7 linked regions of the Homo sapiens genome follow. The protein of the gene in region 1 purifies or fractionates together with the protein of each later gene. This does not show direct contact. Each region holds a gene or a part of one and is shown in the gene's direction. Other genes may lie near its edges.

What was found.
Region 2: the proteins of CCR9 (region 1) and PIGG purify together in Homo sapiens (co-immunoprecipitation; one large-scale study listed by IntAct). This does not show direct contact.
Region 3: the proteins of CCR9 (region 1) and CLPTM1 purify together in Homo sapiens (co-immunoprecipitation; one large-scale study listed by IntAct). This does not show direct contact.
Region 4: the proteins of CCR9 (region 1) and ALG10B purify together in Homo sapiens (co-immunoprecipitation; one large-scale study listed by IntAct). This does not show direct contact.
Region 5: the proteins of CCR9 (region 1) and BRI3 purify together in Homo sapiens (co-immunoprecipitation; one large-scale study listed by IntAct). This does not show direct contact.
Region 6: the proteins of CCR9 (region 1) and TMEM87A purify together in Homo sapiens (co-immunoprecipitation; one large-scale study listed by IntAct). This does not show direct contact.
Region 7: the proteins of CCR9 (region 1) and TTYH3 purify together in Homo sapiens (co-immunoprecipitation; one large-scale study listed by IntAct). This does not show direct contact.

The regions. Positions count from the first base shown.
Region 1 is NC_000003.12:45,892,828-45,896,952, forward strand, and holds part of CCR9 (C-C chemokine receptor type 9), read left to right. Parts: intron 1-1,389; exon of another isoform or gene 1,390-1,474; intron 1,475-2,078; 5' UTR 2,079-2,106; coding exon 2,107-2,127; intron 2,128-4,125.
Region 2 is NC_000004.12:516,210-520,334, forward strand, and holds part of PIGG (GPI ethanolamine phosphate transferase 2, catalytic subunit), read left to right. Parts: intron 1-129; exon of another isoform or gene 130-227; coding exon of another isoform or gene 228-267; intron 268-4,125.
Region 3 is NC_000019.10:44,986,025-44,990,149, forward strand, and holds part of CLPTM1 (putative lipid scramblase CLPTM1), read left to right. Parts: intron 1-430; coding exon 431-551; intron 552-1,154; coding exon 1,155-1,399; intron 1,400-2,055; coding exon 2,056-2,149; intron 2,150-4,125. UniProt on the Homo sapiens protein: Involved in GABAergic but not glutamatergic transmission. Binds and traps GABAA receptors in the endoplasmic reticulum (ER).
Region 4 is NC_000012.12:38,322,752-38,326,876, forward strand, and holds part of ALG10B (dol-P-Glc:Glc(2)Man(9)GlcNAc(2)-PP-Dol alpha-1,2-glucosyltransferase), read left to right. Parts: 3' UTR 1-1,161; coding exon of another isoform or gene 1,162-1,173; 3' UTR 1,174-4,125. UniProt on the Homo sapiens protein: Dol-P-Glc:Glc(2)Man(9)GlcNAc(2)-PP-Dol alpha-1,2-glucosyltransferase that operates in the biosynthetic pathway of dolichol-linked oligosaccharides, the glycan precursors employed in protein asparagine (N)-glycosylation.
Region 5 is NC_000007.14:98,280,027-98,284,881, forward strand, and holds the start of BRI3 (membrane protein BRI3), read left to right. Parts: upstream 1-1,659; 5' UTR 1,660-1,769; coding exon 1,770-1,911; coding exon of another isoform or gene 1,912-1,951; intron 1,952-2,324; coding exon 2,325-2,427; intron 2,428-4,855. UniProt on the Homo sapiens protein: Participates in tumor necrosis factor-alpha (TNF)-induced cell death. May be a target of Wnt/beta-catenin signaling in the liver.
Region 6 is NC_000015.10:42,211,920-42,214,787, reverse strand, and holds part of TMEM87A (transmembrane protein 87A isoform 1 precursor), read left to right. Parts: intron 1-2,868. UniProt on the Homo sapiens protein: Potential monoatomic ion channel gated by mechanical force, implicated in normal touch sensitivity through the generation of mechanically activated currents.
Region 7 is NC_000007.14:2,641,729-2,645,853, forward strand, and holds part of TTYH3 (protein tweety homolog 3), read left to right. Parts: intron 1-4,125. UniProt on the Homo sapiens protein: Calcium-independent, swelling-dependent volume-regulated anion channel (VRAC-swell) which plays a pivotal role in the process of regulatory volume decrease (RVD) in the brain through the efflux of anions like chloride and organic osmolytes like glutamate.

The DNA.
Region 1 (4,125 bases):
AAGCTACCAGCAGAGAGGTTACCAGGAGGAAGTTCTGGTTGCTTTCCTCCTCAGGGCCTGCTGACAGCCGGAGATGACACTGAGAAGTGAAGTGCCAGAAGGTTTTCATCGTACTTTGCTTTTTCCTGCCTTACTTGAACAGCTTTATTGAGGTCCAATTATAATAAACTGCAAATATTAAAATGCAGAATGTAAGTTCTGACGTACATACACCCTTGCGAAGCTCTCACACAACCCAGACAGTGAACATATTTATCCCCCACTGAGGTTTCCTTTGTACCCACCTGCCCTCCTGCCCTCCCACACTCCCCTTCCCTCTCTCTCTCTCTCTTTTTTTTTTTGTTTGAGATGGAGTCTTGCTCTGTCACCCAGGCTGGAGTGCAGTGGTGCAATCTTGGCTCACTGCAACCTCTGCCTCCCAGGTTCAAGTGATCCTCCTGCCTCAGCCTCCTGAGTAGCTGAGACTACAGGCGCACACCACCACACCTGGCTAATTTTTTGTATTTTTATAGAAATGGGGTTTCACCATGTTGGCCAGACTGGTCTCGAACTCCCAACCTCAGGTGATCTACCCACCTTGGCCTCCCAAAGTGCTGGGATTATAGGCGTAAGCCACCATGCCCAGCCACCTCCCCTTCTCTCTCTCTCTATTGCCAGGACATCAGTGATTCTGCTTTCCGTCAGTATAGATTAGTTTGCATTATTTAGAGTTTTATACAAGTGAAATCATACAGTATGAACTCCCTTTGGTCTGGCTACTTGGCATAATTGTTTGGAGACTTGTCCATGTTGCTGTGTGAATCGGTCATTCATTCCCTATTCCATTGGACGGATATTTCACAGTTAACTTATCCATTTACTACTTGATGGACATTTAGGCTGTTAGCAGTTTTTGCCTACCACAGAGTAAAGCTGTAATAAACACTCACATACTAGTCTTTATGGGGACATATACTTACAATTTTCTTGGGTGAATACTTAGGAGTGGGATGACTGGATCACATGGTGAGTGCATGTATAACGTCTTAAGAAACTGCCAGTTTTCCAAAGTGGTTTTACCACACATTATGCATTGGAAACCACTGTACTTTCAGAAAAGCAGGGTGGGGTCATGATGTTGTTATGGAAAGGAAGCCAACAGGTTGGCTTTATAGGATTTATGAAAGAGGCTATTTTTTTCGAGAACCTTGGGGTGTGATGCTGGACAGGTTTCCTTGAAATGTACTCGCTAAGGGTATAAAAGGAAATGCCCCAGCTCAGGCACAGACTTCGTCCTCGAAGGCAGTCAAGCTGTTGTTTCTTTGGTTATGTAGGGGTGGGCTTTAAAGAAATTCAAAACACATGAAAATGACAACTCGAGATTTATTTCAGTCAGTTCCGAGGCCCTGTGCATTAGGGAACTAGAACTCATTTTCTTCAGTACACAAACCTAGGACTTCCTTTTCCTGCTGAAGTCAGGGTAAAGAGGAGAAAGGTGGGTTCTGGGGGCACCGGGTCTTTTAGGGAGGGGCCCCAACCCCAGTGGGCACCACCCAGCCCTCATGTTCTTCTTGCCACCTGGTTACTCAAAGGCCCTTTTCCTGGGGAGTCCAGAGCCCAGGGCATTCTCAAAGCGACCACTGTCCTGTTAGCTTCGGTGAGTCCCTTAGCTGATAGAGCAGGGGGAAGGGGAACCAGTCAGCAAAACAGGACTTGACAGACAAGCTGAATCAAGGGAAAGGGAGCTAATGTAGAAAGGATGAGCTGGGAAAAATGTAACAGCCCACCTGCCATTCCTCATTTGTGGATGGGAGATGTACTAATTATTGTCTAAGTAGAAAGAAAACAAATGCTAGAATCAGGTGACCCTCAGAGTCAAAGAAGTGAATGATAACTTCAAAGGAGAGGTTCATTCATTTCTGTGTGGACTACTCAGATGATTCTGAAATCTAGAATACTATATAGACTCTAACTCCTGCTTGGAATATTTTTTTCAGAAGAATAAGCAGATTTAAAATTTAATCTCCATCTTTTTGGCATTTGGTTGTTACTATTCGTTTACAAGCCAGTCCACTTTTTGATTTTTGTCCCTTTTCCAGGAGCAGGCTTGCATCTGACTGACCCACCATGACACCCACAGACTTCACAGTGAGTACAGCCGTGCTCCTCTGGCTCCTCAAAACACACACTCATCTTCCCTTTTTAGGGGGTGTGGGAAGGATCCACTGTGGGGGAAGGATTTATCTGTGTGGTTTCCCAGGGTAAGATCTCTGCCTGGCAATGCGCATTGCTGGGTAGGTTGTTGTCCAGCACAGAGGGTTTTGCAAATGCAAAGAGGCAGCTATGCTTTGGGGTATGTTGTGGAGACAGAGGAAAATGTGGTGTTATAAACAGCTAAGGATTTTTAACCATCTTTAACTAGGGTGTGCTTAGTTCCATATGCCTGTTCTAAAACTCAGACAAATGAGGCAAAGGGAGAATTCATGTAATTTGCTTTTAAAAAACCCATGGTGGGCACATTAGTTGTATTTCTTGCATAACATTATGTAGACCTTATGAAAACACGTAACAGTATACATTCCCCTGAAAGAGACCAAGAGCTGAGCAAAAATTAGTGAGTCAGTCTGGGCGTGGTAGCTCACGCCTGTAATCCCAGCACTTTGGGAGGCAGAGGCGGGCGGATCACCTGGCCAAGGCCAGGATTTCAAGACCAGCCTGCCCAACATGGCAAAACCCCATCTCTACTAAAAATACAAAAATAGCTAGGTGTGGTGGCATGCGCATGTAATCCCAGCTACGTGGGAGGCTGAGGCACGAGAGTCGCTTGAGCCTGGGAGGTGGAGGTTGCAGTGAGCCAAGATCACGCCATTGCACTCCAGCCTGGGCAACAGAGCGAGACTCTGTCTTAAAAAAAAAAAAAAAAATCAGTGAGTCAAATCATAATCCAGAGAATCTTTTTTTCTTTTACAGCCGAATGTAATTAAGTGTAGAATCAAATTAATTTCCCATGCTTTTGTAACATTCATAAATGCCTTATAAAATTACCTAAGGGCTTTGATTTTGCTCTTCTCCAAGGGAAAGCCTGGGTTTTACATGTAGATAATTGAAATCCAGACTTCCTAGCAGGCGGGCTAACAAACTGCCTCACAGTACATTGTGGGTTTCCATGATCTATGGAGAGTGGTGGTTGAAACAGTTTATCAACTAAATTATTTATGATATGCTAATGATTCATTAGTATTACATATGTATAGTTACCTAATTGCACCTATATCCATAACAACAAAAAAGTAATTAATTTGGTCCTGGTGAAGTAACTATTATTCTGACAAAAAGTAGACTCTTCAGTTTCTCCTGCATTAAATTCACCTTTCAATCCCTGAGGCTGTGGAAACAGAAGTAGATGAAGGCAGCAGAGCCAGGGCTGCTTCTGAGCTTGCCAGTCATTTGCTTTTATCATTTGGGATCTTGGATAATAGCCAACTCTGCAAAGCAGCCCCAGATAAGAAGGAAACTGCACCTCAGTAATGACCTGCTCTTGTCAGAGGAGTCTGGCGCCATCTAAATGGGAAGAAGATGGGACCCCTGTGGCCCTGACTCCCATATTCCATGGAAAGTAGCCGTGGCACCCTGTGGCCACCTTTCTGAGGATGTGCTGGGCCAGTCACCCATGCAGGTGCCCCACATTCCCTCAGCGTCACAGTAAAGGCAGAGTCCTTTTTACAGATGAGGAGACCGAGACTGGGGAAGGTGGTTTGAGGGTTCAAGGTCTCATAGAAATTTGGAGGAATAGCCCTTGAGGGGTGCTGTTGGCAATCATAGCTTTGCTGGGTTCCTCCCTCAGGGTGAATGTCAAAGCACTGAAATCCAGGTCTCAATGTTGGGATTTAATACTTTCTCAAGTGTGGGGCCAAGGTGTCTGCCAGAGTCCCTGCTGATAACAAATTCATTTTTTCCCCACCTCCCTCCTTCTTGTGCCCTCTCTTATTCCATCTCCCCCATTGCCTTGTGCCCATTCTTGGTGCTAAGGCACAATGGAAGCCTTGGCAAGCACAGTCCCTGCCCTTTCTCTGTCCATTCCCCAGAGAGGGGCATCTTGAGCCTGGGTTTGGCTGAGGATTTCCAGAGAACACATGAGCCAGAGAA
Region 2 (4,125 bases), on another chromosome or scaffold:
TCTGTCAGAGCTGTGTGTTTCCACTGAGCTCGGGTTTCTCCGATGTGTTTCTGTGGTATGCAGTTTGTCACAGGAGTATTTTTTCATCACTACTCTTTGATGATACAGATTGTGTTTCTGTTTTCTTAGAACTTTGAACTATCACCATTGGCAGCACCCTCAGATGCAGTTATCTAAAGTTCTTTCATAAATTTATTCATTCAACAACTATTTACCAGGATCTTGTTATGAATGAGAGGCTGTTAACAGGCACTGGAGACAGAGCAGGTACGAGGCTCTGCCCTCATGGAACCTTCCAGAGGGAGGAGAGAAAAGGAAGTGATCGATGGCCGATGGTGACGAGTACCTTAGGAAAAGAATAAACAGGGCTGGGTGCGGTGGCTCACGCCTGTAATCCCAGCACTTTGGGAGGCCAAGGCAGGCGGATCATGAAGTCAGGAATTGAAGACCAGCCTGACTAACACAGTGAAACCCCGTCTCTACTAAAAATACAAAAATTAGCCAGGCATGGTGGCGGGCACCTGTAATCCCAGCTACTCAGGAGGCTGAGGCAGGAGAATCGCTTGAACCCTGGAGGTGGAGGTTGCAGTGAACTGAGATCGCGCTACTGCACTCCAGCCTGGCAACAGAGCAAGACTCTGCCTCAAAAAAAAAAAAAAAAAAAAAAAAGAAGGAATAAACAGGCGTGGGGTGGGAAGTGAAGCGGGTGGGGGAGCCACTGGGGCAGGCTGGCCGCTGGCCATCTGGGAGGGCACATTACAGGCTGTGGGGGCAGCAGACAGGGTCCTCCATGGGGCGCACATTCAGGGGATGGTCAGAGCAGGGGCCAGAGTGGCAAGGGCAGGGCAGAGGAGATGGCATTAAGGGGTGAGGGCCACTGGGCGCTGGAAGGGCTTTCACTTGTATTCTGAGTTAAATGGGGAGCTGCTGCAGGGTTTGGTGAGAGCCAGAGTCTCCCACTTGCATTTTCGAAGGCTGTCTCAGGCGCCCTCGTGGAGGATTCTGCTTTGTGCTGTAGGAGGAGACCAGTCAGGAGGCAGTGGCTGTACTTCTGTGAGAGGTGAGGGTGGCCAGGGCCCAGGCAAGGGTGGTGAAGAAGTGGTTGCATTCTGGAAAGATTCTGAAGGTCATGAAGACAGGATTTGCTCACGTGCTGCGATATTGGGTACGAGCAGACCAGAGGCGTTAGGTACGACTCCGGGGCTTTCAGCTGAAAGCAAAGAGAGTAATAATTTCCTCAGGAGGGCACGACTTAGGAGGAACAGTTCTGCAAGGCAGGTGCTTGTGGGTGGGGGTGTTGGTGTCCAGGAAGCCATGTAAAGAAGTAATTTCAGGAAGCATGGAGTGGGCAGCTGCGTCAAAGGTTGGTATTGAATAAAATCAGGAATTGAGAACTGAGCTTTGGATCTGGCCATGGAGGGTGATGAGTGGCTTCGTCAGATGGAGAGTGGGGGAAGGCCTGGCTGGTACTAGGCAGGCGAGAGCCCTAGGCAGCAGACACTGCGACTCTAATGGGAGTAGGAGGTGGAGTTGCCTGAGGCAGGTGTGGGGCCAAGGGAGGTGCCAGGAGACAGCTACAGGAAGGGTCCAGGAGAGGAACGTTTGTCTCCCTGGGATGTCTTCAGACAATCGACTCTGACGCAGCCGCGTTCATCAAGAATCATGTTTGATACTGGGACTCCTTTGAGAGCCCGGAGGAAGTCGACTCCTATTTGGGGGCAGCAGTTAATGTGGTGTTGGCAGATTTCCCTACTTGAAGTAGAGGGATACTATTACTACCAAATAGAGTGAACGTCCACAAGCTTGCGCTGAGATGTAAACCGGCCTCCTAGAGTCACGTGTGGAAGACAAACCTGGCCAGCCAAGGAGTGCTTGGGAACCGGATGTGATGAGTGTCTGGAGGCCCCACCGAGCACCAGCTCTCACCCTGTGAGGTGGAGGACTTTGGCCATGGAGCCATTTTAGTCAAGACCAGGGACAACAGTGACTTGTGCTTTTCGTTTTTTAAAAAATAGTATGAGTTTGGTAGCTTTTGCATATTGCTTGTTTTGTTACTGTGTCCTTTTTTCTACGCTAAGAGTGATAAAAACACCAACAAAATTGGCCAGGTGTGGTGGCTCACGCCTGTCATCCCAGCACTTTGGGAGGCTGAGGCGGGGGGATCACAAGGTCAGGAGATCAAGACCGTCCTGGCTAACACAGTGAAACCCCATCTCTACTAAAAATACAAAAAATTAGTTGGGCATGGTGGCAGGCGCCTGTAGGCCCAGCTACTCGGGAGGCTGAGGCAGGAGAATGGTGTGAACCCGGGAGGCGGAGCTTGCAGTGAGCCGAGATGGCGACACTGCACTCCAGCCTGGGTGACAGAGCGAGACTCCATCTCAAAAAACAAAACAAAAAAGATACCAACAAAATCAAAACAACAATGGAAGGGTTATTTGCCTGTTCCAGAAGTAGTGGCTGGGGGAAGATGGGAACCACAGTGGATATGAGAGGAAACCAGCCTGTTAAAGGAATGCAGGAGCCTCCCTTGACTGAAAACACAGCCACAGCGTCTGGAACCCCCCCTGGCGGCCCATTGTCTACACCGTCGGGGATCCTTTTTCCTAAAACAAAATGGGGTATGTGTTCTGACACTGAAATACGTTTTAGAACCCACAGCCAGGCCCGTGCAGTCCCTCGGTGGCGTCCAGTCTGTTGGAGGCTTTGTGCCCACCCGGCTCTCTCAGTGTAGTGGGACCGGCTTTTTCTCACCTCTGGACTTTTGCACATGCTGTTCCCATCAGCTTGATGCTCTTCCTGCAGTTTTTTGCCTGGCGAATTCCTGGGTACCGTTTACATTTCAGCGTAAACATCAGACCTTCCTGGTCCAGCGCCCACTCCCAATCCAAAATCAGTTCCTCCCCATTACCAAAAATCCCTCATTGATACCCTCTACTTTTCCTTCCTGGGAAACTTGTAATTACAGCTGTAATGCAGTCACAGTTTGTAATTACGCTTGTGTGCGTGCGTGCGTGTCTGTGAGCCCTACTGGATCCAAGCCCCAGCAGGCAAGGATTGCACCTGCTTGCTCGCCATGCTGTGTCTCCCCTGGCACAGCGCCTGGCACAGTGCCTGGCACGTCGTCCACGCTCCATGGATATTTGTTTCGATGCATGCACAGGTGCACCCCCATAGCTTTGTGACTCTCTGATAGGCGGTGGGGTGTGGACACAGGCGTCCCCCCATCCAGGGTGGTAGGTGTAGCAATGAAGGATGCCAGCCCTGGAACCAGACTGCCTGAGTTTCATTTGCAGCTTTTACCCACTGGCACTGTGGCCCAGGTGCGTGACTCACCCTCTGTGTCTCAGTTGCCTCCTCTGGATAACAGTTCTGATGCTCATCCCTGCCTCATAGGGTCATTAGGGAGGTGAAACGAGCGAGCCGCCTAGTGTTGCTGGCTACTGGCACTTAGTGCAGAGCACCTGGTGCCGGCAGCAGTGGGGTGGGCCTGCAGGCGTGTGGGTTCATGCTTAGGGACTTGGTGCCTGCAGCAGTGGGGTGGGCCTGCAGGCGTGTGGGTTCACGCTCAGGGACCTGGTGCCGGCAGCAGTGGGGTGGGCCTGCAGGCGTGTGGGTTCATGCTTAGGGACTTGGTGCCTGCAGCAGTGGGGTGGGCCTGCAGGCGTGTGGGTTCACGCTCAGGGACCTGGTGCCGGCAGCAGTGGGGTGGGCCTGCAGGCGTGTGGGTTCATGCTTAGGGACTTGGTGCCTGCAGCAGTCGGGTGTGCTTGCAGGCGTGTGGGTTCACGCTCAGGGACCTGGTGCCGGCAGCAGTGGGGCGGGCCTGCAGGCGTATGAGTTCATGCTCAGGGACTTGTGCCACAGCACCCTGGACCTCAGTGGCTTGAGCGCCTGTGGCAGCTCTTTCACTGCTGTGATAGCAGGCCTGGGGCATGCAGAGCCACAGGGTGGGGCGAGCCTGCCAAGAGGCACAGCTGAGACCCTTCTTGGCATGGCTCTTCTGGAGTAGGAAGCTCATGTCAAATACCGAGGGGGTCTCAGGAAGGAAGTTGTTGCTTTGCAGACCAGTCTAATCACAAGTGAGTGTGGTCCCGGCAGAGGCTCACGCATCAGCCAGCTCGG
Region 3 (4,125 bases), on another chromosome or scaffold:
GCCAGCAGTTGCTGTGGTGGCTGATATTCTGCTGCCAGGGTTGTCAGGGGAGATGGCTCATGCCTGTTTTCCCAGCATTTTGGGAGGCCGAAGCAGAAGGATCACTTGAGCCCGGAAGTTCAAGATCAGCCCAGGCAGCATAGTGAGACCCCATCTCTTCCAAAAAAGAGAAAAAAGAAAGAAAGAAAAGAAGCTGTCCATGGTGGCTCACGCCTCTAATCCCAGCACTTTGGGAGGCCGAGGTGGGAGGATCGTGCTTGAGCCCAGAATTCGAGACCAGCTTGGGCAGCATAGTGAGACCCCATCTCAGAAAAAAAAGAAAGCAAAGATTAAGATTTTCTCGGGAACCCTGGGGAGGAAGTGTACAGAGAGTGATAGTCCCCGAGCACTTCCACCTGCCTCTGAGGTCCTTCCCCCCATGTTGCCTCAGAGGGCTGAGGACTATGGGCCTGTGGAGGTGATCTCCCATTGGCACCCCAACATCACCATCAACATCGTGGACGACCACACGCCGTGGGTGAAGGGCAGTGTGCCCCCTCCCCTGGATCAATGTAAGCTCCCCAGCCCTGCCAGCTGCCTGCAGAGCCTTTGAGAGGGTGCTCGGGGTCCATCTCCTTGTCTTCTCCTGGCCCTGTCCCCCTGAGAGAGCTTTCCAGGGCTCCACCCTCCCAAGCTCCCACCCTGTCCTATCCCCTTCCCATGTCCTCTCCCTCTCCCACACCACCACCCCTGGGGACCCCAGGACTGACTTCTACACGCCAGCATCGGTCCGCAATCAAGTGCCATCCAGCCCACAAACTGTTTTCAAAAAATGTCTTATCACTTGCCAGCTTTTGAAATTGAGGCAGTATCACTTAAAAGCCACAATTTCTGGCTTATTTTATAAAACTGGGTTACATGGTCACCCACAGGGCAGCCGTGGGCTGGAGCTGAGCCACAGCTGCCCCCTTCAGTGGGGACCTGCCTGCCCTTTGCCTCAGTCCCCTCTGCTGAGGTCAAGGCACCCTTTAGCTCCTCATGGTGTGGCCTAGAAATGTCCCCTGTCCTCCAGTCTCTGTAGAGGGGCCCTGTTGGGTCTCTCCAGACATCTGAGGCCTGCGGGTACCCTGGCCTCCTGCCCGGGCCAAATGGTGCCCCTGCCCCACGTGCTGCAGATGTGAAGTTCGACGCCGTGAGCGGTGACTACTATCCCATCATCTACTTCAATGACTACTGGAACCTGCAGAAGGACTACTACCCCATCAACGAGAGCCTGGCCAGCCTGCCGCTCCGCGTCTCCTTCTGCCCACTCTCGCTTTGGCGCTGGCAGCTCTATGCTGCCCAGAGCACCAAGTCGCCCTGGAACTTCCTGGGTGATGAGTTGTACGAGCAGTCAGATGAGGAGCAGGACTCGGTGAAGGTGAGTGCGGCCGGTGTGGGCGGGACTTCCCGGTGCCTTCCTGGGCGCAAGAGGCCAAGAGGAAGTGTGCCAGGCCTGGGCTGTGGGACCTCCCGCCTGGTGCTCCTCTGCCCACAGTTTCACAACCTCCCAGGTCCCTTCTCCACAGTGAAAGGAAGTGGGCACCCAGCCCTCCAGCCCTAGATGACTGGGGGTCCTCTCCCCAGGCTGTTCTGTTGGACCCTTTGGGTCCAGACCTGTCCCTTCCTCCTTCTGTCCCAGACCTTGTGTCCCTGGCCCTGGCTCCAACTCTGTGTCTCTGCCATCTCACTGGGTCCTGAAATGTCAGCCTGTGTCTGTGGCGTGAGGCTCGGCTTTGCCTCCTGGGCTGTCGTCACTGTTGGGTCTCTGCTCCTGGCTCCCAGTGTCCCTTCACCCACTCCCCGCAGCACTCCCTTGGCCTCTGCCTCTTCCCCTAGTGCCATCTCCCCGTCTCTTCTGTCTTTGTGAGTCACCCTCCTCTCTCTCCCCATCTGCCCATCTCTGACCCAGTCTCCTCCTGGCTGGCCCACCTTCAGCCTCCCTCTACAGGCGGCCCCAGGGGCAGCCCTCGGGACAAAAGCTAGTGAAGGTGCTCCTGGGTGGGGACAGGCTGTGCTCACATGTGTCCCCTGCAGGTGGCCCTGCTGGAGACCAACCCCTACCTGCTGGCGCTCACCATCATCGTGTCTATCGTTCACAGTGTCTTCGAGTTCCTGGCCTTCAAGAATGGTAGGAACAGGACCCCAGGGCTAGTGAGAGGCTGTGCAGGGTGGGGGACAGGACCTGCCCCCTTCCTCCTCCCCTCCCTCCCCACATGTCCTCCCCCTGCCTGGGGTCTCTCAGCCCCACTCTCCAGAGGCCTAGTGAGCTGGGGAGGGGCAGTGGCCCCAAAACTCCCAACCCAGAAATTCCCACCCACCGGGTGTGGAGCTGAGGGAGGGGCTGGCCCGCTGGTGGGGCAGAGGCCAGGCCAATACTGCCAGGAAGCAGGGCTGGGGAACTCCAGAGCCAAGAGCAGGGAAGCCCCGGAGCTGCTCCCGCCACCCTGCCCGGCAGGCTGCCTGCTGCGGGAGGCCGCTTAGGGCTGAGTGGACGGGGCCTGCCCAAGTGGGAAGGAGGAGCACTGTCCCCCAAAGGTCCCTAGGTTCTAAGGCTGACCATACTGATGGCCAGCGTTTGAGGAGAAGCAGCCACATGCCAGGCACTGTCCTGGGTACCCTCCCCAGTAGCTCCTTGAGCCCTGTGGGAGCCAGAGGCTCAGGGATGTCACTTGCCCAGTCACACGGTTCCTAAGGGGCAGATGGTTCCAGCCCCAACTCTCATCTTCTAGGCCCTGCAGGCCACTTCTTCCTTGCCCAGAGCACCCCAGTCTGAAGGAGTGGCCTGCGGCCCTGTAGCTCCCGCAGGCGGCAAGAGGAATGAGTAGTAGTATTCCTGGTATTAAGATGCTATTGCCGGCCTGGTGGTGGCTCTCGCCTGTAATCCCAGCACTTTGGGAGGCCAAGGTGGGAGGATCACCTAAGCCCCGGAGTTTGAGACCAGCCTGGGCAACAAAGCGAGATTCGTTTCTACACAATTTTTTTTAAGAATTAGCTGGGCATGGCAGCGTGTGCCTATGGTCTCAGCTACTCGGGAGGCTTGGGCCTGAAAGGTCAAGGCTGCCGTGAGCCATGATCACACCACTGAACTCCATCCTAGGCAACAGAGTGACACCCTGTTCCAAAAAAAAGGACGCTCTTGCCATTATTGAGAACTACCATCTGGAAGAATGCAGTGTCATACGGGCACAGGAGCTGGTGCCGACCCCAGCCAGCCATCTACCAGCTGTCGCTGGGAGACGGGACCCTTCTGCCTAGGAGCTGGCTTGGCTGGGGTCCAGTGAGAAATGAGGCACAAGAAGGCTGTCCTCCCCAGTGTCATGCAGCAGGGGGCGCAGGCCTCACTTGGCACCAGTGCTGTGTGGCCTCCCTGGTCTAAGGAGAGGCTTGGGCCCAACTGCTCCCACGAGAACCCACCAGAACCCTGTCTCCAGACCCATTCTTCTCAGTTGGGACAGGGGTCATTCTGATGGGCAGGGGTGGGTGGGGTGAGGCTATGGAGTGTGCCAGAGCTCTGGGATGTGGGGGAGCTCTGGGATGTGGGGGAGCTCTGGGATGGGGTAGGGTGCACATGGACCAGAATTCACAGCCCTCACTCCCTGAGTGCAGAGCTGGCCCTGACTCTGCAGGACTGCAGACCTGGCTCCACCACTGTGCTACAGACGTGGTGGCTCAGCCTCCTGTGGCTGCGGTTAGATGCTCAGCCGGGCGGGGTCAAGAGAGGGGTGTCCGTGGTGAGACCAGGGCTCAGAGAGGAGCATGCTGACATGGATCCTTGGCAGCATCTAGGCGGAGCACTGGAAGGAGCTCCAGACTGGAGCCCAGGGCCCTTTTCAGTTTCCTGAGCATGGCTGTGAGCCAGTTCCTTCCCGGTGTCAGGGCAGGGGCCTGGAGGAGGTGGTCTTGAAGTGCATGCCACAGATCTTCCTTCCCAGGGAGGGCGAGCTGGCACCATGGTGTGGCACAGACCCCGCGTCCCTTCAGATTCTGCCATGCCAGGCTGTTTGGCCTCAGGGAAGCAGCTTCCCTGACCAGTCCTTAGCACCTGGCACGTGGTGAGCCCTGTCCATGGCACCAGTCACCGTCACCATCAGTCAAGGGACTGCA
Region 4 (4,125 bases), on another chromosome or scaffold:
TTGTCATCTCCCTATTCCCACATCCCCGGCCTCTAGCAACCATCATTCTTCTCTCTACTTCTGTGAGTTTAATTGTTTTAGATTACACAAATAAGTGAGATCATGTGGTATTTGTCTTTCTGTGCTTGGCTTATTTCACTTACCATAATGTCCTCCACGATCATCCATATTGTTGCAAATGACACAATTTCTTCCTTTTTAAAGGCTGAATAGTATTTTTTTGTATATATATGCCACATTTTCTTTATCCATTCATCCATGGATGGACACTTAGGTTGATCGAATCACTTGGTTATTGTGACTTGTCTGCAATGAACATAGAGTGCAGACTTCTCTTTGACATACGGATTTCAAATCTTCTGGATAAATAGCCAGAAGTGGGATTGTTGGATCAGGAGATAATATCTTAGCTGATACCTTTTAAATAACTCTCAGTATCTTTACTGAGAGGTTAAAAAATAAGTGACTTCTTAGGTAATATAAAGCTAAAGGTGACTAGTGTTTGATTCCATTATCTATTAAAAAAAGTCAGAATTGAAAGAAAGTTGAGAAATCCTTTGGTCTGACTTTGTAGATTAGGGAACAACTGCTGGGGTAGGATTATTTTGTGTTACTTTTTGAATTTTGTGTTTATTATTTTGAGTGTATTTTTTGGGTTGTCATTCCATTACAGGAAAGTATTATTTGGGCATGTTAACTTTGACATGTAAACTTAGAATTGTGAATAGAACTCATCTTTTAACATAATTTTATGTTTCTAAACTTTAAAAGTAGCTATAAGTGAACAAATTACTTTCCCCTCAATGTCAAATTTTGCTTCTCTGAGTTTTAAGTGATGAGTCTACATTTACAAATATAAAATTGTGTGCAGGTGAAAATTACAAGTATAATTTGAGTAATAAATGCAGGCCATTTTTTGGTTGTACTCTAGTACTCAGAAAATAGATCGGCATTAGTTATAACAGTGATTGTAGAAAAACGTGTTTTACCCAGACTTCTTAAAAATTAGATGAGAGAGGACACTCAAAGAAATTATACTTTTGTCATTAATTTACTATAGTGGAGAACTAAATCTGGGAAGTCAAAATTGAAAAAAGAATGTGTAATTTAGGGAAAGTAACTTTTTGTCTGATAATATTAATGCAAGGATTTTGTATTTAGGAATACTTCTGAGAGGAGAAGCTTCCACTCTGATCTAGTCTGGCAAAATTGAGGAAAATATTCTACCCTGTAATTAAAGAAGACTGCTCTTTGGAGGGATCACTGTTCTATATCTTTTTTTGTTTGTTTTTGTCTTTGAGGAGAAGTCTCGCTCTTGTCCCCCAGGCTGGAATGCAATGGCGCGATCTTGGCTCACTGAAACCTCCACCTCCTGGGTTCAAGCAGTTCTCCTGCCTCAGCCTCCCGAGTAGCTGAGATTATAGGCGCCCACCACCAAGCCTGGCTAATTTTTTCTATTTTTAGTAGAGCCGGGGTTTCACCGTGTTAGCCAGGCTGGTCTCGAACTCCTGACCTCAGGTAATCCACCTGCCTCGCCTCCCAAAGTGCTGGGATTACAGGCGTGAGCCACTGTGCCCAGCTCTTCTAGTTCATTTTTAAGTGTTGAGTCCCTGCTGTTTAAGAGATGTTTTGGTGAAAATCTACATTCAGAGAGAAACAGGTTAATCTTCCACATTTTTTATAAAATACATAAAATATAGTACTTGGCATTTTAAGAAAAGAATGCCATGTATTAAAAGGTGCTATTTTCAACTATTTATTATTTTAAAACAGGAATGCTTATCAATACTTTCGAATTTAAGATAAATGTCTTCGTTAAATTTTCTAGGCAGTTCAAAGATGGCCATTTGCTGGTGAATTTTCCAAAATAGATAACAGATAAAATGATTATGTAAGAACTTGGCACAACAGATCATTTTGCCTTTAGTCGTTCAAGAAATGATACTAAACTCAAAGTCATTCACTTGAAACAACTGAGAAGACCATTCTTAGGTGTTTAGATCCTTGCTTTTAGAAACATTCTTAGTTATATTTGTGTTTTCAAAAGTTATTGAGTAGATAGATATTTTTTCATGAATTTTTAAACATTAGACTTAGCTGAATTGATTAAAATTAGGTGATTATGAAAAAAATATTGCCCTGCTCGAGGGCATCTGGAGCCCTACAGTTACCATTACTAAAGTCTGTGAGTATGTCTATTTTGAAAAGTGTCATAAAAATATCTAGTCCATAAATCATTATAGGTTCAGTAATACATCATTTTGAACTGATTCTATCTTCTGTGAAATTCTAGAGATATGTTATCTTTAGGTAGCATGAGTAAGATTCAGGTATGCTGTGAATTTTGTTAACGTTTATGTTTTCCATTAATGGATAGTCAGGAATCTTTTGAACTGCGTCTATGTATTTAAATGATTTGGAAAGATAGCATCTCTCAGTTTAAACTTAGCATCTCATTTTGGCAAGATAAATTATTTTAGCTGTCTGGCCTTTTCTTTGTCTTCTTAGAGTTATTTCTGAAATGTGCATAGCCAGTCATAAAATAACTTGTGTAAATAGCCTAATGTAATTTATTTCTAATAAATACGTAGCTTAATGAAATGTATTTCTAGTTTGAACTTAATTGCCACTTGGCTTGATATTATTTTCCTTAGAATTGTTGGAAGAGAGGAGAGAGGAAGGGATCTACCATTTTTATTTATACCACCTAAATAGTGGACTGTTATTTTGGACTCACTTTTAAATAAAATATTTATTCACATGAAGAAATAAATTTTGTGTTTATTAGGTTAGCAAGCGTTTATTATCTTTGAAGTAATTGGAATTTCATTAAAAAGTGAAGCAAGTAAGAATTGTGATATAAATTTGAAAATTTTTAAATGGAAATTGAAATATGACTTAGGAACTGTGGGCTTGTAGAAAAAAACATTTAACATGGGAGTTAAGATTTTTATATTTGGTTGTGGCTCTGGGATCAATAAGGCAAGTGGTTTAGTCTTTAGTCCTCATTTCAAATGAGAATAGTATTTGTCCTAACTCTAGTCAGTGTCTGATTGGTATGTGTATAACCTTATTTTAAAAAGGATTCATTCCTGCCATATACTCATAATATTTATAAGTATGTCATATGATAAATATTGAGTAAATATATACTGAATGAAGTTTTTAGTATAGAGTGAAGTGAATAGAAAAAACATCCTACATAACCGTGGCTAATTTTAGGAAGTAAATCATGTTTCATAATAAGAGTCATCCTAAACATTTTTCTGTGTAATTTTCTGACCCAGTGTTAACAATTTTTATTTGCCTTAGTGCAAGCTTGTTCAACCCACAGGCCACATGCAGCCCAGGATGGCTTTGAATGCGGCCCCAACACAAATTTTGTAAGCTTTCTTAAAACATGATGAGATATTTTGTGATTTTATTTTATTTTATTTTATTTATTATTTTATTTTATTTTATTTTATTTTTTAGCTCATCAGCTATCATTAGTGTTCGTGTATTTTATGTGTGGCCCAAGATGGTTCTTCCAGTGTGGCCCAGGGAAGCCAAAAGATTGGAGACCCCTGCTAGCATTTAATGCTTATACATGTATTTACTTGTAAACATGTTGTTTCTTTGATAGGATATGATTTCAACATAATTACTGTTTATTTAAAATAAGAAAAACAAATAACTTTCAACCATTAAAAGGTTATAACACTTTAAAGGAAAGTTTCTTATTAAAGAAACTTTATACCCTATTAAGGGTATAATTTCAAAATAATTGCTTTTTATTTAAAATAAGAAAATATTCTTATTTCTATTTAAAATAAGAAAAATCAGTAACCTTCAACGAATAACAGGTTAAAGAATTTAAAGGTAAAAGACATTTCAACTAATTACAAATACTTTGTTTTTTTTAGTTGGGCTACATTTTACCACTCTAGGAATAGCTGTTAATTATTTTTTATATAGGGCATTTTTATGTATTTAATGTTGACAACTGACGTTTCCAATATACAAAAACTTGTGTAACTGAGAAAATTATAATAAAAATAGAGATTGAGGACATATTTTTAACATATATCCATGAGTCAACACTAATATTTAATATTTGAGATTTGAAAAATTATTTCTAGGGTA
Region 5 (4,855 bases), on another chromosome or scaffold:
AGACCAGCCTGGGAAACATAGCAACACCCCATCTCTACAAAATATAAAAAAAAATTAGCTGGGCACTGTGGCGTGCACCTGTAGTCCCCAGCTACTTAGGAAGCTGAGATGGGAGGATCACTTGAGCCCCGGAGGTCGACGTTGCAGTGAGCCAGGGTTGCATCACTGCACTCCAGCCTGGGCCACAGAGTGAGACTCTGTTAAAAAAAAAAAAAAAAAAGATATATATATATATATATATATATATATGTATGTGTGTGTATATATACATGTGAATGATGATCCCTTATTAAAAAATAAAAATAAGGCCGGGTGCAGGGGCTGACATCTGTAATTCCAGCACTTTGGGAGGCTGATGCAAAAGGATTGGTTGAGGCCAGCAGTTTGAGACTGGCCTGGGCACATAGCAAGATCCCATACAAAAATTTTTAAAAATTAGCTGGGCATGGTGGCGTGTGCCTGTGGTCCCCAGCTACTGAGGAGGCTGAGGTGGGAGGATGGCTTGGGCCCAGGAGGTCGAGACTGCATTGAGCAATGACTGTGTCACTCTACTGCAGCCTGGGTGACAGAGCAAGAGAGCCCCCCCAGCACCCCCTACAAATTTTTTTTTTAAAAATTAAAAAGGCGCGGTTCGAGAAGAGCTGTAGTCGTCCCAGAGCTACAGTGCAGGTGATATCAAAATGCAGGTGAGAAAACTGGAGACAGAATACAGTAACGGATACAGGTGCCCCTGAAAAGGTGCAGAGGCGCTAAGGACGCAAGCAATCCTGAACGTTCCAATCGTTCGTTTTAAAGTTGTCCTGGCCAACCCGTGAAGCCTTGTATGAGGAAATGTTTCAACGAGGGCGCCTGACGCAGTCCCCGAGGCCAGAAAACACCCAGGTTTAGATACGGGCTCTGACCCGCACCTGCCACAGCCAAATCCCTCCCCCTTCTGAGCCCGATCCCGTGTTGTCCTCCAGGGGTAAGCAAAACACCTGGCAGGGCTGCCTGAAGATTAGGGAAACTGAGGAGACGCGGCAGGTGCCCAGTATTTATAGTTTTGTCCCCAAACGGGGGAGTTATTTGTAAGCACTGGCTACTACCCCCGTCAATCACCTAATTGTCCAAAAAAAGGCAAACGGAGGGAATGCGCCGCAGCTGAGCACCGCGCAGGCCGCAGCTGAGGTGCACACCCGGGTGTGCCCTTTGTATTGCTGGAAGCGCTGGCGATCATAGGGGCAGAGGGCTGGCGTTGGGGCGGCCTGGGACCCACCCGGCCCCGCCCCCTCTCAGGCCCCGCCCTCCCCCTCCTCCACCGGTAGGGGGACCTCGGCCGGCCTGGGAGATCGGGGCGTAGGGGGAGGTGGGGGTGCATCCGCGAGCCCTAAAGGTCATGACCCTATGGGGCGTCTCTGGGTCGTCGTGGGGGATGGGCGGGGGGGGGGGTCTCCCCGCCACGGGAGGTCTAGAGAGCAGCGGCGGCGGGGCGGGGCGGAGTGCAGAGGCGCCGCCGGCGGGGCGGCTTCGGGAGGGCGCGGCCCCTTTAAGACGCCCCGCCGGCCCCGCCCCCGAGCCCCGCCTCCCGCCGCCCACGTGACCCCGGTCTTGTGACTGGGCCCGGGAGGGCGGGGGAAGCCCGCGGCTCGCGCCCGCCCCGCCCCGCCCCGCGTCTGCCTCAGAGGGGCCCGAGCCACCCGGTCCGCCGCGTCCCCGCCGCCGCCGCCGCGTCCCCCGCCGGGGCCGACCGAGCCGAGCCGGGCCGGAGCGGCGGGCGCGGCCGGGCCGCCATGGACCACAAGCCGCTGCTGCAGGAGCGGCCGCCCGCCTACAACCTGGAGGCCGGCCAGGGCGACTACGCGTGCGGCCCGCACGGCTACGGCGCCATCCCCGCCGCGCCCCCGCCGCCGCCCTACCCCTACCTCGTCACAGGTGGGCCCGTAACCAACTTTCCCCGCCGGCGGCTTCCGAGGTGGCAAGCCCGGTCGGGGGACGTGGGTCCGGAGGCGGGTGGGGCCCGCCCGGGGGTCCTTCCTGGAGCTGGAGGTCCCCGGGCTGGCTTCGGGACCCGGCGCCGCCGAGGGCCAGCCTCCCCCCCGGGGCTCTAGTCCTCGGGCCCGTCGTAACCCGGCGGGGCCGGATCCCTGCCCCAGATGAACTTTGTGTCACGAGGCGCTCGCTGTTGGCAGATTAGCGCCGAATCAGGCCCGCGGTGGCCGTCCCGAGGGTGGAAAAGACCGGGGGCTTTTTTAGCGGGGTGGAGGTTGAGGGGACAGGATGAGTAGTCCCCGTGGCGGTCCGATTTCTCCTCCCTGCACCCTAATGACCTGCTTTCCCGCCCACAGGGATACCCACCCACCATCCCAGGGTCTACAACATCCACAGCCGGACCGTCACCCGCTATCCTGCCAACTCTATCGTGGTCGTAGGAGGCTGTCCTGTCTGCAGGTGAGTGGGTCTGCAGCCTGGGGACTGGCCCTGGAAGCTCTGAGGACCCCCGCCCTAACCCCCAGGACCTCACAGCTCTGCTTGTGGGAGTGGGTCCGGCTTGACTTGGATCTTGACCAGAGCCCTTTATGGGAGGGACAGACAGGCTGCCCGAATGCGGTGTGGGAGAGTGCGGGTCCGCTCACCCTTGGCTCTGAACACATTTTGTGGGGGCAAAAGGGTGGATTCCTTTTCCTAGATCTTGGGGCATTGCACCCCAAGTGATTGGGATGTAGAAATGGTAACAACGGGACTCGTGGTCCTTTCGTCTTTGTTCTGGGACTTGCAAGGAATCAGGTGTCTGCTTTTTCCTTCACTTTCCGCAAGTTTACTCTGCAGTTGATCGTCGAAGGTGGTGGAAGGTTTCATTTTCCCGGAAGGGGCATTTGGAAGTAAGTGCACCAGCAGGACAGACCTCAGTGGGAGAAGCGACGGCCGTAAGAGCTGCTTTATCCAAAGTTGGCTTGAAACGCTCTTCCACGAGCTGGACCAGGATGGAAACCCCGTGTTTCTTTGAGGCAGGAGTTATTTTTTTCATATCCTCGCATTGGACCTGCACACGCTTTTTGGTTTTTATAGGGCCCCGAGGTGCAGCTAGAGGCTTGTTTTGTGGAGGTTTTGAGGATTCACATTTAAATAAGGATTAATTAAATATAAACCCTTGGCAGCTGGGGGTGTTCAGATTGCTTAGAAAGTAGGGGCAGAGTTGGCCGGGACAGGGTTTTCAGCTGTGTCTCGGAGGAGGAAGTTGAAGCCACTGAGATGGAATTAAGAAACCCTGGTTTGGACTTAGACTTGATTTCAAAAGTGTGTGTGTAAGGCCTAGAGTGGAGTCACGGGGAAGTGAGTGATTTCAGAGCCTTAGCAGGCAACTTCCTGGGAAGGAAGGGCAACCTAGAGGTGGGGACAAGAGGCTGGGACCTCGGGGGCAGGTTGTGGCTGCTTGCCTGCACAGGGACCCCGTGACAAACCCTAACTGGGACGTCAGTTTGACACAGTTGGTCACCACCCAGCAGAAACATTAGCCTTTGGAGTGAAGGTGGAGGGAGGGCAGGGTGGGGCGCTGGCTGCCTTCGGGACATAGTTCTCTCCCGGAGCTGCACCGGGTTGGGGGGCTGGCAGAGCTGTGTGAGTGTGAAGGCACATGGAGGGGACTCAGAACATGGAGGAGCAGAGGGTCTGCCTGCGTGTCATTGTCCATGCCCTGCCATCCCGGTGTCCAGCCTGCCGGAGGAGCCGGGTTCCGGTCCTGGTCCTGCCAGGAACAGCGGGGCTTGTTTCCCCACCTGGGACGTGGGGGTGTCTGGTGAGGTGTCTCTGAAGCTCTTAGCTCTTCTCTGCCCAAACCCCTGAACTTGGAGAGGTGAGAGACCAGCGGCAGCGAGGGATGGGCCAGATATCCCAGGGCTGGGGGGCGCCGAGGTGGTGGCGCAGTTGCTGTCGGTATGGGGGCACTGGCCCTGCCACTTCCCCTTCCCTAGGTGGGAACTGTGTCCCTGCGGAGGCCCATGGCTTCCGCTAACCTGGAGGTGCTCTCCAGTTATGCAGAACCTGGAGCGGGGTCAGACTGTGCTCTGCTGGGAAGGATCTTGGGCTCGGCCCTCAGAGGCTGTAGGGGTGTGGGGTCCTTGGTTACTTAATCACTGCTCTCTGCCTCTGGGCAGCTGCACCAGGCAGGGTGGAGGCTGGGTCCTCTCTGGACAAGGTTGGGGGGTCCTTAGTCCTTTAAGTTGGGACCAGAGCACTCTTGGATCCTGCGGCGACCCCTTGGGTTGCAGCCAGGCCCTCCCAGCACACACGTCCCTGCGCTCTGCCCGTGGTGCCTTGGATGCTGGAGAGTGGCTCTGGCTCCCCGAGGCTTTGCCTCTGCAGCTGCATTGGGCATGGGATGGGCCCCTGTGCCCTGTGGCAGCCAGAGGGCGAGCAGGGGGCTGGGTGCTCTGCTGCTGGCGTGGGTGGGGTGTGTGGTCCCTGGGCCACTCCTCTCTGCGAGGAGAGTGGAGACGGTTCCCTGAACACACAACACACACGTCTGGCCGCTGCCTGGCGTCTTGGCCCGGGAGACAGGATACCACTCACATGACCACACTTCCTCCTGCCCCAGGTCCAGCCCGCCGGGCTCTGTCCCCCTCCCTGCCTGGTGGCATGGCAGGAATTTGCCCAAGTCACACATCTGTTAGTCCTTCTGAGTGAGGCTTGGCCAGAGAAGCCCGTGTCCCTTGTGGCTCTGCTGCCCTGGCCAGGCCTTCGCTGAAGCTGCCTGACTCCATCTTCCCTTTCTAGCCGTTTATGAGGAAGCATTTCCGCAGCCTGGCGGCGGATATGTCCCTGCTCCTCCCACCCTCCTGCTTCACCCCTGCCCTGCCCTGCCCTGCCCTGCCTTGCCCTG
Region 6 (2,868 bases), on another chromosome or scaffold:
TGCTAAGACCAATTTCAAGAAACTTAGGTTGTCTTCTAGGAGTTTTGTGGTTTCAAATCTTATGTCTAATTCTTTAATCTATTTTGACTTGTCTAAGTCTTTAATCTATTTTGAGTTGATTTTTGTGTATAGTGAAGATGAGTTACTTTCATTCTTTCTCATGTGAATATCTAGTTTTTCCAGCACCATTTGTTGAGGAAACTGTCAGTTTCCCCACTGTGTAGTGTTGTCTCTCTTTTCGAAGATCAGTTGACCATGTATGTGTAGTTTTATTTCTGGGCTTTCTATTTTGTTCCACTTGGTCATAGTATGTGATTCTTTCAACGTGCCGTTAAATTCTGTTTTCCATTGTTTCATTGAAGATTTTTGCGTCTGCTCATCAGGGATATTGGCCTGTCGTTTCTCTTCTTGTCATGTCTTTGGCTTTGGCATTAGGGTAATGCTGGCCTCATAGAATAAGTTTGGAAGTTCCTTCCAAATAAATGTTTTCGTCTTTAATTTTTTTGAAAGCGTTTAAGAAGGATTAGTGTTACTTTGTCTTTAAGTACCTGGTAGGACTCAACTAAAGAAGCCATCTGGTCCTGGGCTGTTTTTTTGTTGGGATGTTTTTGATTACTGATGGAATCTTGTTGTAGGTCTTACCAGGTTGTGTGTTCCCCCCCCGGATTTTCTATTCCTTGATGATTCAGTCTTGGTAGATTGTATACTTCTAGGAATTATATATTTTGTTCTAGGTTATCCAGTTTCTTGGCATATTTTTAAAAATGTTTTGTATATTTTTATTGAAATTCTTACTTTGTTCATGCATTGTTCTCCTGAGTTCGTTGAACATCTTCATGATAGTTGTTTTGCATTCTCTTTCAAATAATTCCTATACCTCTGTTTCACTGGGGTTGGTTTCCAGAGATTTATCTTCTTCCTTTGTTTGGGCCATGTTTCACTGATTCTCTATTTTCCTTAATTCTTTGTGTTGGTTTCATTGCATTAGAAAAAAAAACAGTTACCTTTCCAGTGTTCATGGACTGGCATTGTACAGGAGAACACCCTCATCAATCATTCTGATAGCCTCTCTAACCCACTCTGTATTATGTCTTTTCTGGACTTCTGCATATGTATTCCCAATCAGAGGGATTTGCTGGGTTTTTCCCTCCCCAGGAATTTATAATCTCTTGCTCCCTTTTGTGTTTATCTGCTGTATCATGGGTCTCCTGGAGCCAGTGGCATAGCCCAGCTCTTTTTTTGTTCATACTGGCCCCAGGCACCTAAAATATACTGGTCCCATCTGTGCTTCAAACCATTCCCTACAGAAACCATTCCCTCAGGTAACCTCTTACAAAGTTGGAACATTTTCACAGTCCATCTCTCCTCCCTAGGGAAAAGCTAGGATTTGGGGATGTTGGGGATTCTACCTGCTTACTCTGCACTGAGCTGGGGGAGCGGCTGTAGTGAGCTCATGCTTGCTAGTCCAAACTTCCACTTTGATTTCAGCAACTTCCAACCTGGGCCCTTTGTTTTTAGCTCTCGGACTCAGGCAAGACAGAAAACAGTCTCTCGTGCAGGTTCCAGAAAAGTCAGAATGTTGGATGTACATTCCAGTCATTTCCTTCCCTCTGCAAAAAGAAGCTGGGAGCTGAGGGTTTCCTCTCTATCATGTGGTACTGTGCTGGGTCCATGGGAAGGGAAGAATTATGGCAAGAGGGTGCCTCAGGTTTTTCTGCCGACTTTGATTCAGCTGGTTTCATGCTTTCCTATAGTGCAGAAGACCCTCAACTGGTTTCTGGATTTCCCACAAAGGGAATTTTTCCATGTGTTATTGAATCAGTGTGTCTGTAGAGGGAAGGAGTGTCCAGGGCTTCCTATTCTGTCATCTTGCTGACATCACTTTCTCCAAGGCCTTTTTTTCCCTTAAAACTGAAAAAGACCTTAAATGAATTACAGGAGAAACAATTTACATGATGGACCAGGAATCAAAATGGCATAAGGCTCTTCAACAACATCTTTGGGAGCCAGAACAAAGCCTTTGAATTCTGAGGAAAATCATTTTCAACCTAGAATTCTGTACTCAACTAAACTATCATTATGAGGGTAAAATAAAGATGTTTCTAGTCACACAAGAAGTAAAATAATTGATGTTCTATATGCAGTTTCTGAAGAAAGTAGGGGAAAATGTTCTCCACAAAAATGAGGAAGCTAGGAAAAAGACTTGGGATCTAGGAAATAAAGGGTCCAACACAGAGACAAGAAAAATTCCCAGTATGATGTAAGAAATTCTCAGGTTGGCAGCTGGGCACCAGGCTTGGATGGAGTGGAGAACAGAGAGCATCGGAAAGGATATTTTTAAGAAAAAGGGAAACATCTATAGATTATCTGATGTGATTGATTATATTCAAAAAGGATTTGTAGTTCTGTCAGTTTGTGATACAATAGTGAGAGGTACTTCGCAAATGAAGCAAAAGAAAAATGAAAATTAACTCTAAGGTATAAAATTGCCTAAGAAGGGAAATTTAAGGGTAGTACATTAATTATTTTAATTGAAATGGGATACTGTAAATACTATATTAAATTAAATGTAATTTTATTTTTTACATGATTTTTAAAAAGTGTAGTAAAAAACACATAACAAATCAACCCTCCTAACCATTCTAAAGTGCAAAGTGCTAACTAGGTGCACGTCTTTGCCCTCATCCTTCACTGGGTCTTCAAGTGAAATTCCTGAATTAGAGGAGTTACACATTTTTATTAAAGCCTAATCTTATGTAAATATTTGTTTACATAAGATCTTAGCTGACTCTATACATTTCCTTCTGAGTGCTGATTTTCTGTCCAGAAGCCTAGAGCTTTTGATTTAGTTGTTCTTGGGTGAGGTCT
Region 7 (4,125 bases), on another chromosome or scaffold:
GTGCCCCGCAGGAGACCGTCTGCTGGGAATCTGGCTTCGGGAAGTGGGTGCAGAGGCCAGGCTGGCCACGGCACGCTCCCCGCAGACAGCTGGGCTCAGGCCTGGCGCGTTGGGTGCCGGGGCTCTGACGTGGGATGAAGCAGCTGCCCGGTTTGCTGAGCACCCTGACACCCAGGCTCTGCATGCTCGCAGTGGTGGGCTGGGACCCGGGCAGCCCAAGTGGGCTCCCTTTGAGGGAGGCGCCATCTCCTTCCTCAGTTGGGGGAAGCCAAGTGAGGCTGTCCTGGCAGGGGCCCCGAAGCCTGGCCTCTGGCCCCCAGGGGCTGAGGAGCGAGGCTCCGTTTGCAGCTGGCCCCATCCAGGCAAGAACAAGAGAAAGCTGCCTCAGCCAATCGCGGTGCTCACACCTGTAATCCAGCACTTTGGGAGGCCGAGGCAGGTGGATTGCTTGAGCCCAGAAGTTCAAGACCAGCCTGGGCAACATAGCCAGACCCTGTCTTTACAAAAAATTTTTTTAAAAATTAGGGCAGAGGCCAAGCACAGTGACTCATGCCTGTAATCCCAGCACTTTGGGGGACCGAGATGGCAGATCACCTAAGGTCAGGAGTTCAAGACCAGGCTGGCCAACGTGGTGAACTCCCCGTCTCTACTAAAAATACAAAAATTAGCCAAGTGTGTTGGTGCATGCCTCTAGTCCCAGCTACTCAGGAGGCTAAGGTAGGAGAATCACTTGAACCTGAGAGGTGGAGGTTGCAGTGAGCCGAGATCATGCCACTGCACTCCAGCCTCAGTGACAGAGACTCTGTCTCAAAAAAAAAAAAAAAAAAAAAAGAAAGAAAGAAAAAGAAAATTAGCCAGGCGTGGTGATATGTGCCTGTGGTCCAAGCTACTTGAGAGGCTGAGGCAGGAGGATCACTTAAGCCCAGGAGGTTGAGGCTTCAGTGAGTGGTGATCGTGCCACTGCACTCCAGCCTGGGCCACAGAGCAAGACCCTGTCTCTAAAATAATTTTTTTCTTTTCTTTTTTTTTTTTTTTTTTAAATCGTAGACTTGGGCTGGGTGTGGTGGCTCACGTCTGTAATCCCAGCACTTTGGGAAGCTAAGGCGGGCAGATCACCTGAGGTCAGGAGTTTGAGACCAGCCTGGCCAACATGGTGAAAACCCATCTCTACTGAAAATACAAAATTAGCCAGGCATTGGTGGCGGGTACCTGTAATCCCAGCTACTTGGGAGGCTGAGGCAGGAGAATGGCTTGAACCTGGGAGGCGGAGGTTTCAGTGAGTCGAGATCACACCACTGCACTCCAGCTTGGGCATCACCAGTGAAATTACATCTCAAAAAGAAAAGGCTGGGCACGGTGGTTCACGCCTGTAATCCCAGCACTTTGGGAGGCCGAGGCGGGCAGATCATGAGGTCAGGAAATCGAGAGCATCCTGGCTAACACAGTGAAACCCTGTCTCTATTAAAAATACAAAAAATTAGCCAGGCTTGGTGGCGGGTGCCTGTAGTCCCAGCTACTTGGGAGGCTGAGGCAGGAGAATGGCGTGAACCCGGGAGGCGGAGCTTGCAGTGAGCTGAGATGGCGCCACTGCACTCCAGCCTGGGCGACAGAGCGAGACTCTGTCTCAAAAAAAAAAAAAAAAAAATCGTAGAGTCCCCGGTACTCCAGCTCCTGTGCTGCCTTTTCTGTTTTTCTCAGCGTCTCTCACCATCCAGCAGGCTTCACAGTTCACTTACGATGATGCTGAGTGCCTGTGTTCCCTCACCACCCTGCAGGCGGCGCCAAGGGCAAGGGTGCCTGGTGCTTAGCAGCCTCTCCCCACCGGGCATGGGCGTCCCCTGCCCACTGCCCCTGGGCATCAGCCCTCTGCACCAGGGCAGTGCCATCTGAGGGACGGGCTTGCCTCGCCCAGATCCTGTTTGGCCAGGGCTTATCTCGCTCTGCCTCCGTTTTCTCATCTGGCAAGTGGGAGTGGGTGGCTCTGGCGCCGCTGAGGAAGTGATCTGGACCTGGAAGCCCTTTGATGTACGCTGATGCCCCGAGCTCTGGGTGGACATGCCAGGCCGGTGGCTGCGGAGGTCACACCTGTTTAGGCTCTGCGTAATGCGTGTCTGGGATTGACCTGCTCTTCCAGTCCCCAGCTCCTCACCCCAGGAGGAGTTTCCCTGCGAGGCTGTGAGTCCCAGATGTGGGGTGCAGTACAGACAGGCCCTCCTAGAGTCATGTCCCACCGGAGCACAGGGTCGGGGGAGCGAGGGTGACTCCAGCCAGGGACTGGGGAGGCCTCTGCAAGTGGAGAGCAGAGGGAGGGCTCGCTGGAGGAGTCTGACCAGCCCGGGGCCAAGATGCGGCTGGTTGACATGGCCCCCAGGCCATGGGAGCCCAGGGGAGGCCCTGTGGATGGAAGTGCAGACGTGGGCATGGGTCCTGTGGAGCTCTGGTCCCGGGGGGCATGGTCAGCTGCCCCTACAGGTCTGTTCTGCCGTTGGCCTCTGAGCTATAAGGAGGGTACTGGCAGGGCCTGCAGTCACAGCCGGTGGGGTCAGCACCTCCACTCCATTCCCAGCCCCACACAGGCAAGGGCAGACCCAGGGAGCCCCAGAGCGTGGCTTTTCCAAGCTCCCTAACGTTTATAGACAACCCACTGAGCACAGAGCATGGGTACCGTGCTGGGACTGTTAATATGAGGCCCTGCCAAGTGACTGGACTGTCTCCGCCTCCCTGTGTGATCTTGGGTAAGCCCTACTGGGCCCTGAGGACCCCTCTGTGACATGAGCTCCCTGGGACCATGAGACCGCCCTGAGCTGATTCAGTTTCAGTGGCTCTGGTGCCAGCCCTGGGTCCTGCCCCTGGAGGGTGGGGGTGCAGGGCCCAGCAGTCCTCCTGCCATTGCAGGGGCGGTAGGCACTTGTGCATGGCTGAAGGAGTGGGAGGGTGCCCGCCCCTGATGCTCTGCAGTGCCCAGATTGCTGGCTGCTGGGCAGCCGTGGACACACCGGTGTGGCTTTGGACCATGGCGGCTCATTTCTGGGTGTGCCGGGCTGGTCAGCACCTCCCTGGCTGGGTGGAGGTGGAAAGGCCGCCTTCGGGTGTGGACGTCGGCCGGCTTCCTGGAGGGCAGGACACGGCATCCTCCCACTGCCTGGCAACCGTCTCCTGGGAGATCCAGCAGCAATCCCATTGCCCACTGTGGCTGAGCCTCTCATCCCAAGGGGGGGCCAGGCAGGGGACCATCTGCCCCAGCAGCTCCCAAGGCTGGGGTCCCAAGAGGGCCACACTGCTGAAGCATTGAGATGTGGGGAGAGAGGCGTTTCTCTGCAGTAGTGCCAATGAGGGCAGCGCAGGTGTGCCTGGTGGCCACCCCACAACACTGAGGGCCCCAGCTGCTGACACCCCCCAGGGCACCCCCAAGTTAGCCTCTAGGTGGTCCCTGGCCCCATGATGAGGCGCAGCCCTGTATCAGCTCCCCATCCCTCCCCCGGCACAGGAAGTGTGTGGAGGTTCTGGAGGGCTGAGCCGGGGGCAGGGCTATGCTGAATCCAGGGACCTGGGGTTGCAGGGCCTGTGTGCTTTCTCTGTAGCTTCTATGAAGCCCAGTTTCCCTGTGGATGAAATGGGGTGAGAGCACTCGGCCAGGCAGATCGAATGCAGTGCCAGGAGAAGGGACAGCTCTGGGGCCACGTTACCCTCCCTCCCCGCAGCGGGTGCTGAGGAAATGTCACTGTTGCATCAAATTAGCCACTTCCTGTGGGGGTCGCCTGGCCTCGGGACAGGGGAGCTCTGGTGTCTGTTCTGTGGTCTGTCTTTTGTGTTCAGAGACCTGGGGAGAGCCACACTGGAAGGCCGTGCTTGGAGCCAGACAGGGCTGTGTGTCCGATGGGGCGCCTGTATGCAGCCTGTAGCAGTGTGGGGCCAGCCCCACCATCTCATCCAGCGTGGGGGCACGCCATGGACGGTGCCCACCCCTGAGTGCAGCTTCTCGGTGCACAGACCCCAGACAGGATCAGACTCCTGATGGGGCCTCTTCCATGTTCACCCCTCAGAAACACTTTCATGGTCAGCAAGAGGGGGTTCAGTCCCCCACAGGCTCCCAATTTCCCTACCAGACCTGAAAACCTCAGGACT